2 linked regions of the Homo sapiens genome follow. The protein of the gene in region 2 interacts with the protein of the main gene of each other region in a biochemical or structural test. Each region holds a gene or a part of one and is shown on either strand. Other genes may lie near its edges.

Region 1 (7,611 bases), on a different chromosome or scaffold from region 2:
TTTAGATTATGAGACATCTATATAATGTTAAATGGCTAGCTATCCTTTTTTTAAAATTTGCCTTTTAATGTTTACATGATTAAATGTATGAGGTGCAAAATTGTAACATACAGATGAATAGGTCACACATATAAAAAGAGATGCTATCTGGATCATTCTCTAATTCTAAGGGAATGGTTGAGGAGAAATAACAGGAAATCTAAGTATACAAGTATGAAGCAATTTTAATGTACTGAAAGCAAGTTATATAAAATAAAGTGTTTTTGGAGATTAATTTTGGTTACATGCATTTTAAAGATTATGTTGTCAGATAAAGCCAATAAGGAATAATCAAATTATTTGAAAAGTATTACCTTAAACAAAAAATTCTTACTGATTCCATTTTAAAGATTTATAACATAAGTACAAGTTTCCCAACTAAGAAAAAAAGAGAAGTGATTCCTTCCTCCAGAGTACCTTATAATGCCTGAATAAGCAATCCAAATAAATATTTTAAATTTTCAGAAATTACCCTGAAAAATACAAATAATGCTGATATCCAAATATTCAGAAATCACTGCATAGATTGGAATAAACATACTGGTACTTAAAATTGGTTAATAAATCATCACTGGAGTAACTAAAATATTTTAGACATTATAGGAACATACATTGATATTTTCAAAGATGTTAGTATCTCAGAGACACTTTGCATAAATAAGTATTGCTAGTTACTGGACATAATAAAGTAGAATTATTCTAAAAGCTTTCCAAGGATAAAACTGTGTTAGTATACTGGTAGTAAAATGTATAATTAATAAAGATGCTGCAGCTATATTTTCCCACAGTGAAATCCTTGCACAAGAGAAGTATCTGTAATCCTGGTCTACAGAAATTATTTAAGATGTGCTATTACACTAAGAAATAGAAATAAAATTACCTCTGTCAAATTGTACCATAATGACATTAATTTGATATTATAATATCTATCTCTCTTAAGAATTAGACATTGTCTGTAGTTTTGGTATGAGAAGGTTCAGTAAGAAAGATATTAAAATATAATTTGACCAGCAGAACTCCACTATGAGCTGAAAATTTAGATGATTTATAAACATTAATGGAATGGTGGCTGTCTCATTATGCTTATTTAGTAAGGGAAACAATTAAAATATGTACCTAGTACAACGATGACTTTTGGGAGTAAAGAAATTCACATTAGCTGTTCAGATAGCTAGATACATCAGCATATTTCACAATATATTTTATTTCCCTGGTGCTTATGTATATATGGATATTATTGAACTTTATAATTCATTATCTCCATACAAAGAAGTAAACAAAACAAAGATACTTAACTAGTAAGACACGGCTGCTAAATGCATACGCACCTTTTTTTTTTAAACAAGTTTATACAGCCTGTTCTTGTTAAATATTTTAGCGAGAACTAAGTTTTAAAGCTTGATAATTATAGTTATCCATTCTGAAATGACATTTCTCGTGATTTTACTCCTTGTCACTTATATGTATTTAAGCTGGCCTACCTATCTTTGAACAGTATAGGCAAAGAAAAAGGAATATGGTATTAGAATTCACCTTCACTTGATGGAGAACCGGATGTGGTTATCTGGGTAAGAGCCCAGGTTACTTGGATGGAGAGATGGGTTTGCTGGTTTACACTAGGAAGAGTGACGTATTTACCTCGATTCTACTGAAAGCGGATAAAAGCAGTACCATCACTGTGACCTAGGAAAAGGGAAAATGTAAGCCCACTAATATGGAAGCCCATTCAGAAACATTTTCTGTGAACGATAGGAGGACCAGCCTCATCATATTCCTGCTTACTGATCCACATCTGCTGGAATGTGGACAGGCTGGCAAGGATGGAGCCCCCAATCCAAACAGAATACTTCCGCTCTGGGGGAGCTATGATCTTGATTTTCATGGTGCTGGGTGCCAGGGTTATGATTTCTTTCTGCATCCTGTCAGCAATGCCTGGGTACATGGTGCTCCCTCCAGATAACACGGTGTTGGCATAGAGATCCTTGCGAATATCCACATCGCACTTCATGATAGAGTTGAAGGTTGTCTCATGGATCCCACTGGACTCAATGCCCAGAAAGGAAGGCTGGAAAATGGCTTCAGGGCATCGGAAGCGTTCATTCCCAATGGTGATCACCTGCCCATCAGGAAGTTCATAGCTCCGTTCCGGTGAGGAGGATGCGGCTGCCCTGACCATCTCCTGCTCAAAGTCCAGGGCTACGTAGCACAGCTTCTCTTTGACATCTCGCACAATCTCCCGCTCAGCAGTGGTGGTGAAGTTATAGCCTCGCTCTGTCAGGATCTTCATGAGGTAATCAGTCAGGTCTCTCCCTGCCAGATCCAGGCGTAGAATGGCATGAGGCAGGGCATAACCTTCATAGATGGGCACGATGTGAGTGACCCCATCCCCAGAATCCATCACGATGCCTGTGGTCCGTCCTGAGGCATAGAGGGACAGCACAGCCTGGATGGCGACATACATGGCTGGTGTGTTGAAAGCCTCGAACATGATCTGAGTCATCTTTTCCCGGTTGATCTTGGGGTTCAGGGGTGCCTCGGTGAGGAGGATGGGATGCTCATCTGGTGCCACACGGAGCTCATTGTAGAATGTGTGGTACCAGATCTTTTCCATATCGTCCCAGTTGGTGACCACTCCATGCTCGATAGGATACTTCAGGGTCAGGACGCCTCTCTTGCTCTGAGCCTCATCTCCCACGTAGCAGTCCTTCTGGCCCATGCCTACCATAACGCCCTGGTGTCGAGGACGCCCTATCATGGAGGGGAACACAGCCCGGGGGGCATCGTCACCACCAAAGCCTGCCTTGCACATCCCTGACCCATTATCCACTACCAAGGCAGACAGCTCATTGTCAGTCATGGTGCTGGCTGAGATCTTCCAGACGAGTGAACAGGACAAGTGAATAGACAGTGAGTAAGAGAAAGTGAACAGGCCTAAAACACTCCAGAAATGCTTTCAGACACGGGAGGCTGCACCGGGACCACAGGTATTTAAAGGAACACACTGACTCCGCCCATGTCCTACTCCACCAGTTCCCAGCATTTCTGGATGAGGTCATCTCTGAGGTATTAATGATGGTGATGATTACATAAACAATTAGATCTTTCTACATAAAGAGAAAATTGGCTGCCAAGTGGTCAAATCTCAGGTTCCTGTAATTAGGCAACCCACACATGACCGTCAGCCTGCCTGGTGAGGTCTCTAGATAACTATGATGATGCAGTGGGGGATATAAAAGCAAGATGAAAGAAAGCTGGTGCTAGGTATGGCAACACTGCTGGGAGGAAGGCTCCCTCCTTAGCGTCCCTGAGGATTCACTTTTCCTACACTAGCTTACCTTTTCATTCTTAAGATACTGTTCTGATGAGGGGTCTTACCCTGCAATCTTCACTTTTTCAAGATTTTTGTTTCCATTAGATTCCTAATCCCACAGGGTGTCATCATCGTAGAGACTGTTTTAGTAAATGAAAATAATAAATGGCTAAGGATGGCCTGATGGCTGTAATTACAATGCACTTGTGTCAAGCAAAATGTAGAGATATTTAATAGACTTCTAATCCATCAGAGATCAAGCGAAAGGAATAGAATGATTGCTAAAGTTAACCCATATAGATACTTTTTTCTGATATAAATTTCTAACAACCAAATTTCATTAAACATTTACTGTGTCTAGACATTGTTCATAGAACCAGGTTCATTGGGTCCATGTTAATTGTATAATGACTGAATGTCAACTATTTTGCATGATTTATTAAGATGCAGGTTATAAAAATTTATTTATTTGCAACAACTCTTGAGTTCTGCAACAATGGACAAAATGAAGTGATAAGACAAATTTGAAAAATTATATATTTAAACTAATCCTTAAAACATTTTGATCTTCAAGATACATATACTATATTATAACATTAAACCTCTATGTAGTTATTAAAATCTATACAATTAGAATTATACTAGCTTTCCTTCCATTTCAAGATATATTACACCCTGATCACTTCATAGCAACAATTTGTTTGGGTTCCATGTTTCATATAGAAATACAGACTACCTGAAAAGATGTGTATGATGGTAAAATGTAGGACATCAGCAATGTGTTACAGAGAAATAGCATTTAAGAAAGCTCATTACTTCTGCTCCCCTATGTGTTAGGCGAATAGAATATAATTATCTTTGTGAGCTCTTGTAAAGCAAAGAAATTTTCCATGTCTACATCTGAGTTCTCCAAAATAATCTTTATTTGGGTTCATCATTCATTCATTTACCCAATAAAGCTTGCTTTGTAAGAGGTAGCACAGCCCCTATTTACTGGACAAAAAACACCCTCCAGCTCAAGGCCAGGAGAACTAACCTGAGTCTTTGCCCAGTGAGCCTCTTGGAGAGTCATGGTGTAGCATCAAGCTGTGAGCATCCAGCCCTCTTCTTTGTCTATAGCTTGATATAGATTTATTTTATCCAGTGCTGTAATATGCCTTCAAAACCTTTCTGGTGACAATCAGTCATGGCAGAATGTATGTTTCATCACAAGATCCATGGTTTTGCTTTAGGGCTCACCAAAACAGTCCTTTCCTTTAATCTTTTCTGTAACTGCAAAATTCCTTCTTCAACAGTGTTAAAAACCTTCACACTGAATGGTTTTATGAACTTCCTTGTTATGTAGTACAACCAAGCTTTTGATTAAAACAACATTTTATTGCTATAGGATGGTGCTTCTGGGAATTTTTTAAAATCCCATAACAAACTACATGCACATTTTACAAAATGGAAAAAATGAAATACACATTGTATTTAGCACAAGTCCCCATTTATGAATGCTCCGGTCTGGAATATAAAACAAAGCCAAGTTGGTGGAAATGTTAGTGGAGGAGCCCACATAGTACCAAGTGCAGCCTTAGATCCTACACTTACTAGAGTGCTGTCCTTAGAATCACCTTCAACTAAGGGATATTTGGTACTGAGTCCACACAGCATAACTGATGCCTTGAGAGTGTGGCTGATGTGTGATTTTGCTAGAGACTGTCTAGCCTGCTTTAATTCCGGTGTCCCAGGAGCAAATTTCATCAGTTATGTATTCTTAAAATAAGCTTATGCTCTTCTAATTAACTCTCAATAATGCAAGAGGTGCTTATCACAATTCAACAGCCATTAAAAATGTCATCTGTTGAGTTGGTTAAATTTTTAAAAAGTAGTAAGAATTTGTGTTGAGTAAAACATAGAAAGATGGGTTTACAAATACTGGGCTCTGGAAGCTGTGAGTAGGGAGTACTGTTCTTGGAGGTAACAGACTTTGTAACTGACCAGAATTTACAAATGTTTAATTAATTACCTAAACCTTTAGGGCCCTTCAAGGTTCACTCATGGAAGCCCAGAATATTCTTTTTCTTTTACATTTTGCCTAGTTTGACTATCATGCAGATACACGAAACTAGAGTGAGGTTTAAGTATGGGCATTAAATATGAAGACAACTGGTGGAAGCTACCGTGTCTCCTTGCCTTGTCTTTGTCAACCTTAGACTTTTCAAGCAATCCGCAAACATTTATTAAACATCTCCTATGTTCTGGGCACTGGTGATATATCAATGAATAAAACACAGCCCTATTTTTAAAGAGTTCACTGTCTTGTGGGTGAAAGTCACCTTACCCCAGGCCGACAGGTGGCCGTTTGGCACTGGTATGATACAGCCGGCTTATGTTCTGATAGGGCTCTGCCAGCGCTGTTCCAGTTGTTAAAGATCTTGAATGTCACTCCCAAATACACAGATAACAGGTATACAACACGGGAGATGAGAGAAGGAGCTCAGGGAGACATAGAGGTGGAATGAGGGGCCCCTGAACCTGAGGTCAGGGCAAAGAGAAGGAGAGGCCAAAGGAGATGACCCCTGGGCTGAGTCTCAGAGGATGGGCAGGAGGCTGTCACTGGCCAGTGGAGGTAATATTGCAGGCATGAGCATCACAGCTTGGATGAAACCAGAGAATCAATTATGTGTTTGGAACTAGGAGGCTGCCAGCAGCCAACGGAGGCAGTATTACAGCAGCACCAACAACTTGGATGAAATCAGAGAATCAACTATGTATTTGGAACTAGGTCTCTACACAGAATCAGCAAGAGTTTAGAGGCTTACAACAAGAGTCTGAATCTTCACAGGCATGTGGAAGGAAGAGGAACTCCAGAATTGGGTGTTGCTTTCTCTCCGTAGTACATGAGATCTAAGAAGAGGCTCTTACCCATGGGTCATGGAGGCCCTGTCTTAGTGATCATCTCCTGTCTAGGCTCTCATCTGTTTAACTGAACTGCTGAGATTATGCATTTTAATGAGGCCTCGTTCAGCCTCCCCCCTAGGGATGCAATTTAGTACATGGAGGTCAGCTGCCTGCCTCTCTGTCTTCACTTGGTTCCTTCCTTGTGTACCACACCCTCTTTCCTTCTATCCTTGGCTGATTTTGCACACGTCTACCTCTCTAGTGTGGTGATGCTCTGAGAATCTCTTTCAACTGTACTCTGCTCTTAGTGGAGATTTGTAATGTGTTTCAGAAATAGATACATGAATGTTGTAAGCAGTGTGATTTGTTTTCATTATATACTCATCTGTTCATTCATAGCTAGATATAGCTGACCACTTCTTAAAAGTTAAAAAGCTTATTTATTTTGTGGTTAAATACTGCCTAAGGTTTATATTTCATATTGATGAAATGGCTTAAACATGGTATCTTACGATACCAAATAATCTCTCTGGAGATTATTTGCAGTTTGTAAGATACCATGTTTATCTCTCTGGAAAAGAGAGATAAAATGGTAAAGATAATTACCGTTACTTCTCTCTGGAGAAGTCTCAACATATGGCTTTAATATTTCTTACAAATAGTAAATCCACCAATAATAATTACTGATAGAGCTTATTGTGATTTTCTGTTTGTTTGAATATATAGAACTATGTAAAAAATGGCATGAAAAATCAGAAATACAACAAACACTTCCTCAAGTAAAACCTGACTCACCTATTTCCTGAGGCAGGCATGGGCAGAAAGGAGGAAAAAGTGGCTTTGGTGAGGTACGTCTTGACCAGTTCCAGGATGCATTTGGAAGGAAAATATTAGCATAAGAATCTTTTCATTGGTGCAGTTGACCACAGCTCCCAGCCCCTATCTGGTGTGAGCCCACTGTCTGTGAACAAAACCAGCTTTCACTCCACAGGGCAATAGCGCTCCCCCCGATGGATAAAGGGCCTAACGTAGATTTTATGGCACTTCTTCCTAACTAACTTTTAAAATATGCCATAGATCAGCTTTTGGCTATTTCAATTGACCTGTAAACAAAGTTGTTAAGAGGAAGAACAGATTCCTGTGTGTGGTGGATGAACCTTTGGAAATGCCTTGATTCTAAGGAAAGGGGAGAAGAAACAGTTGTAAAATCGGAAGCATCAATATTCACAGTTCAGCCGTTACTGATGGGAACCATATATCATCCAACACAGATAAGCATCATGTTGTGTTCTGATCCTGAAAGGTGAAGGGGATAACAATAAAAATAGTGATTACGGATCATGTAGTATGTGCCAGTCTCTACGCTAAATCCCTTA
Region 2 (4,830 bases):
TCCTGGAATACACCCTGCTGGAAACCACAGCTGAGATTCTCTAAGCTGGCAGCTTCCAACCTCTCCTCCCTCAACAGCTTCAACATTATATGGCACTCAGCTGCAGGGTGCCTGGCTCCAGGCCGGCAGTCCATTTGTGCAGGGTAGTTTTCAAGATGGCTCATAGCCCATCTCTTTCAGTGACCAGCGTGGCCTATGGGAAACATACATCTTGACTCCATTATTGGTAGGAGTACTCTTTAGTTAACTGCCACAGGCCAGTTCAGACACGTCTTACCCTGAGAGCCTTTTCAGAGTCAGGTACCATCCCTGTGTCCCCCAGCATCTGAAGATCACAGGTGAAGGTCTCCAAGTAGTTCACTTAAAAAATACCTCAGTAGGTTTAAGAACAGGGAAAGCTCCCAATTCATTCTGTCAGGAGTATGACTCTCATCCCCAAACTGGACAGATATATAATATGAAAACTACAGACCAATATTCCTTATGAATATAGATGCAAACATTCTAAACAAAATACTAGCAAACCAAATCCAGCAGCATAGAACAAGGTTTATGTAGCATGGACAACTGAGATTATCCCAGGAATGCAAAGTTAATTCAATATACAAAAGTCCATTAATACAACATATTAATAAAGGACAAAACAACATGAAAATCTTGATACAGAAGAAGCATTTAACAAAACCCACAGCCCCTCCTTTTTTTTTTTTTGATTAAAAAACACTCAGTAAACTAGGTTTAATAAAAGAATTTCCTCAACTTGAAGCAAACCCACAGCTAGCTAACATCATACTCAATGGTGAAAGACTGAATGCTTTCCCCTTAAAATCAGGAACAAGAAAAAGATGTCTGCTCTTGTCACTTCTATCCAATATTGTACTGGAGGTGCTAGCCAGCACACTAAGGCAAGAAAATGAAATAATAGGAATCTAGACTGGAAAGGAAGAAGTAAAAGTATTTCTGTTCACAGATGCATGATCTCATATGCAAAAAATACTAAGTGACAAAAAAAGAATTTTAGAAAAGCTACAATATACAAAATCAATATACAAAAATTAATTTTATTTCTAACACCAGTGATGAATACAAAAATAAAAATTAGAAAATAATCATATAATTAAAGTGGCATCAGTAAAATACTTAGAAAAAAATTAAAGACGTCAAGACTTGCACACTGAAATCTCTAAAACATCACTGAAATAAAGACCTAAGCAAATGCAAAGACATCCCACAGTCATGGAACAGAAAACCTAACACCATTAAAATAGCAGTTATTTCTCAAATTTATCTACCAATTCAACTAAATCCCTATCAAGATCCCAGCTGTTTTGCAGGAATTGACACAATGATCATATAAAAATTCATATGCAATGCAAGGGACCCAAAACAGACAAAATGATTTTGGGGAAAAAAAAAAAAAAAATGGAGGACTTGCACATCCCAAATCTAAACTTACTACCAAGCTACAGCCATCAAGACAGTGCGGTGCTGGTATAACGACAGACATATAGGGCAATGGAGTAAGACTGAGAATCCAGAAAGTCTTATATTTATGGTCAACTGTTCTTTGACAAGGGTACCAGGACCATTCATGGGGAAATAATAGTCTTTTCAACAACTGGTGCTTGGGCAGATGGATATACAGATACCAATGCACTTATGCAAAAAATGGATGAAATAGGAAACTTCACTACATTCTACTGCATGCTCGGTCATTTTCAATCATTTAGGTGGCAACACTGACAAGATAACAGAAAGATGGAGGTAATAACATGTGAAAGGCAAAATGGTTTGTTTTTTTTTTTAAAAATGACAGTCTCTATCATGAATTTACTTACACTCCAGGCAAAGGTTATTAGAAGAAAAAAAGATGTAAGAAAATTCCTTAACTGAAATGTGGAAAGAGTATCAAGAGGAGACCCTAAGACACTCTGTAAGAATCCCAGTGACTCCTCACTGTTCAACTAAGAAATGTACCCCATTATGCTGTGCTACCACGGAAGCATTGGAGGCACTTTGGGGGTTGATGAAGTCTTCATGGATGAGGTACTTTAAATATCTGGTCATGAAGAGTATTTGAGAAATATGACAAGTGAAGATGCTGGGTAGGAATGCAGCGAGGAAAGTGTGTAACACAAGGCCAAATTGGAAAGGTCAGTGAGGGGGCAATCTGTGGAGGCACTGAATGCAGAGGATATTAAAATTAGCAAGATAGTGTTCTAGCACAATGAAAAGGATTGGAAGAGGGAGATGAGAGTCAGGGAGTGAAATTAGGCAGCTGCTAAGAATGTCCGGGTGAGTCAGAGGATCAGGACCTGTAAGGGCAGTATAAAGAAGGAAGGAATGATGGGAGAGGTTTAGGGGGAAAGAAGTGACAACCTGTGACAATTGAGGAATGAGAGATTTTGATGATTGGGGTGAAGGTTACATTTCTTAAAAAGAAACAAAGAATGGTCGGTCGATAGAGATGCAAGATGAAGAATTTTGTTTTTAGGACTACTGACTATGAGGTAACAAAGAAATCCCAGAGACAGAGGTCTGAGCAAAAGATATGGGATTGGGGAAGAATCTTTGGGAGTGACTGAGGTTGACTAGAGGGAACTGGGCAAGAACAGGTAAGGACTTTAAGCAGAATTGGAGGAGTATCCATCTAAAATCTGGGTAAACTGGGATGGAAAAACAAGTAGCCAGAGAAGCAACAGCCCAAGCTAGGGTGTTGTCAAGGTTATAGATGTTACTGATTTTGGCAATGAGGAGATTATAAGGATCCTTGAAGACTGTACTTTCGGTGAAACTACCATGCATTAGTAGCCTTTCACAGTGATATCTACCCCACACCTGCATCAAAATCTTGCAGTGCCTATTAATAAATGCCAACCCACTAACGGGGAGGGGAGAAAAGACTTGGGACTCTGTACTTGTAAAACCCTCTACCCTCCCCAGGCAATTCTTTACACACTAACACTGTTGAGGTAAAAGGAGACAAGTGAGGGAGCAAATGGAAGGTGTGTTTTTGGATTATACAGTGGCTCATGGAAGGGTGGGAGGGGTACAGATGGCCCTTAGACACTGGCGGAAAGTCAGAGAAAAAAAATTACAGTAAGCAGGTAAAGGGATCAAGACTACACAGGGACTAGTCTTGGGACGACATTTCTTCCTCTGACAGTTTGTATGGAATTCTTGAGAAAAATTCCTCGAAGGGGCCTGAAATCTCAGAATGGTCATGTTTTTAATGGGAATAGGGAGTGATGCTGCCCCATTACAACCATCTGTTCTAACAGAATGTCTGTACCGAGGAGGGATGAGTAACATCGGCAAGTTCTGTTCGAAGCCTTTTTCAAGTTTCTTTTTGATATGTATCTATCTATCTATCATCTCCCTATACAAGCAAGCATCCCCAAAAGTAGTTGTCTCAGGAAACCAGGGTTAGGATGACCAGCTCATTTGCTGGAGCTGCCAAGGTCCAGAAAAGTTTGGCTGCAGGCTGTTTTCATGTTTTATGTATGTTTGAAATGTTCTATAATAATAAAAGGTTAAAAAAGTTTACATTTATTTGGAAAACCAGTTACTTTAGTTTATGGTTCCTTTTTTTCCCTCCAGAGCTTCCTGGAGATTGAGGTCTAATTCAAAGAAAACCAAAATATATAATAGAGTACCTGGGCAAAAAAAGTACTTTTATAACATAACATTTGGGGTAGAGGAAGTATCCACTGTAGTCAAAATGTCTATGTTTTGCTCTTCCTTATTGTTCAGGGACATTCCATTAAATAGTAATGAAAAGGCAGCAAAAGTAAGAGGAGTGACAACATGCCCGGCATAATTAAGCAAGCTAGAGCAGCTATTCTGTGCAACCGACGATTTTTTTTCTCTAAAATTTTAAGGGTAGGTTCATTCTGACTCTGTTAAAAGTCTACTTGATGTGAACAACTCTATATCTGATAACCTATTTCAATTACCACTTTAAAACTTGTCATATGGATACGTTATTACAATTGTAGAACTTTAATAAATACCATAATAATAAAACTTGAGAACTGAAGAGCACACATTTCTTCACGAATTTATTATATAAAACGCCCTCAGAGTATTTAATTTCTCCTCACTTTAATTACACATTAAGAAGCACAGTGGATGAGAAGCCTTTAAGATGACTACAGTTGCACGAAGGTCCCTTTCATCAAGGTAGCGTATGTACCCTAACAGTGTTCTAAAGGCTGGCCCAGAAAAACCCCATGTTACCTTATCACAATATGGAAAGCATTGTCTTCTTTTTCCACTAAATTAAATTATGGTGAAAAGTGCCACAGTTTTATTTAGCATTATGGTACATAACAAACAGTTCTGTCTCAATTATGAAAAAAATTAATTAAAATAATCCTGAAAGACATCCTTTTTCTCCCCCCAATGATTTGAAAGCTGCATTTTTCCTGCCAATTTCAAACAAACAAATCATCAGGTTGATCTACAGTAATCAGTTAAAACAATCAGTCAATCAATCAATCAATCACCAAGGCACAAGCTCAGCACATTAGCTATAGCTTGTAGCAAAAGGATATATCAATGTCTCACCTTAGTTAAAAATACATAATCCTTTTATTTTATAATGCAATAAAAGAAATTAACAACATCACATACACAGAAGACTAGGAAAGGGGAAACTACTTACTTCTGGAAATCAGTAATGTAAACCTACTTGTACTTTTCCATAGTACATGAAAGTAACGTTTAACATGTTTTGAATTAATTAATTAAATTTAATCTGTGGGGCTATACAATGTAATTCTTAGGAGTAATAGTTTCATTCATTTCCAGGTCAGCTTACTGTATGAT

What was found.
Region 1: the proteins of UBE3A (region 2) and ACTBL2 form a complex in vitro, tested with the Homo sapiens proteins (2 studies listed by BioGRID).

Annotation. Positions count from the first base shown.
Region 1 is NC_000005.10:57,479,812-57,487,422, forward strand, and holds ACTBL2 (beta-actin-like protein 2), read right to left. Parts: upstream 3,001-7,611; 5' UTR 2,897-3,000; coding exon 1,766-2,896; 3' UTR 207-1,765; downstream 1-206. UniProt on the Homo sapiens protein: Actins are highly conserved proteins that are involved in various types of cell motility and are ubiquitously expressed in all eukaryotic cells.
Region 2 is NC_000015.10:25,333,199-25,338,028, forward strand, and holds the end of UBE3A (ubiquitin-protein ligase E3A), read right to left. Parts: 3' UTR 530-4,830; downstream 1-529. UniProt on the Homo sapiens protein: E3 ubiquitin-protein ligase which accepts ubiquitin from an E2 ubiquitin-conjugating enzyme in the form of a thioester and transfers it to its substrates.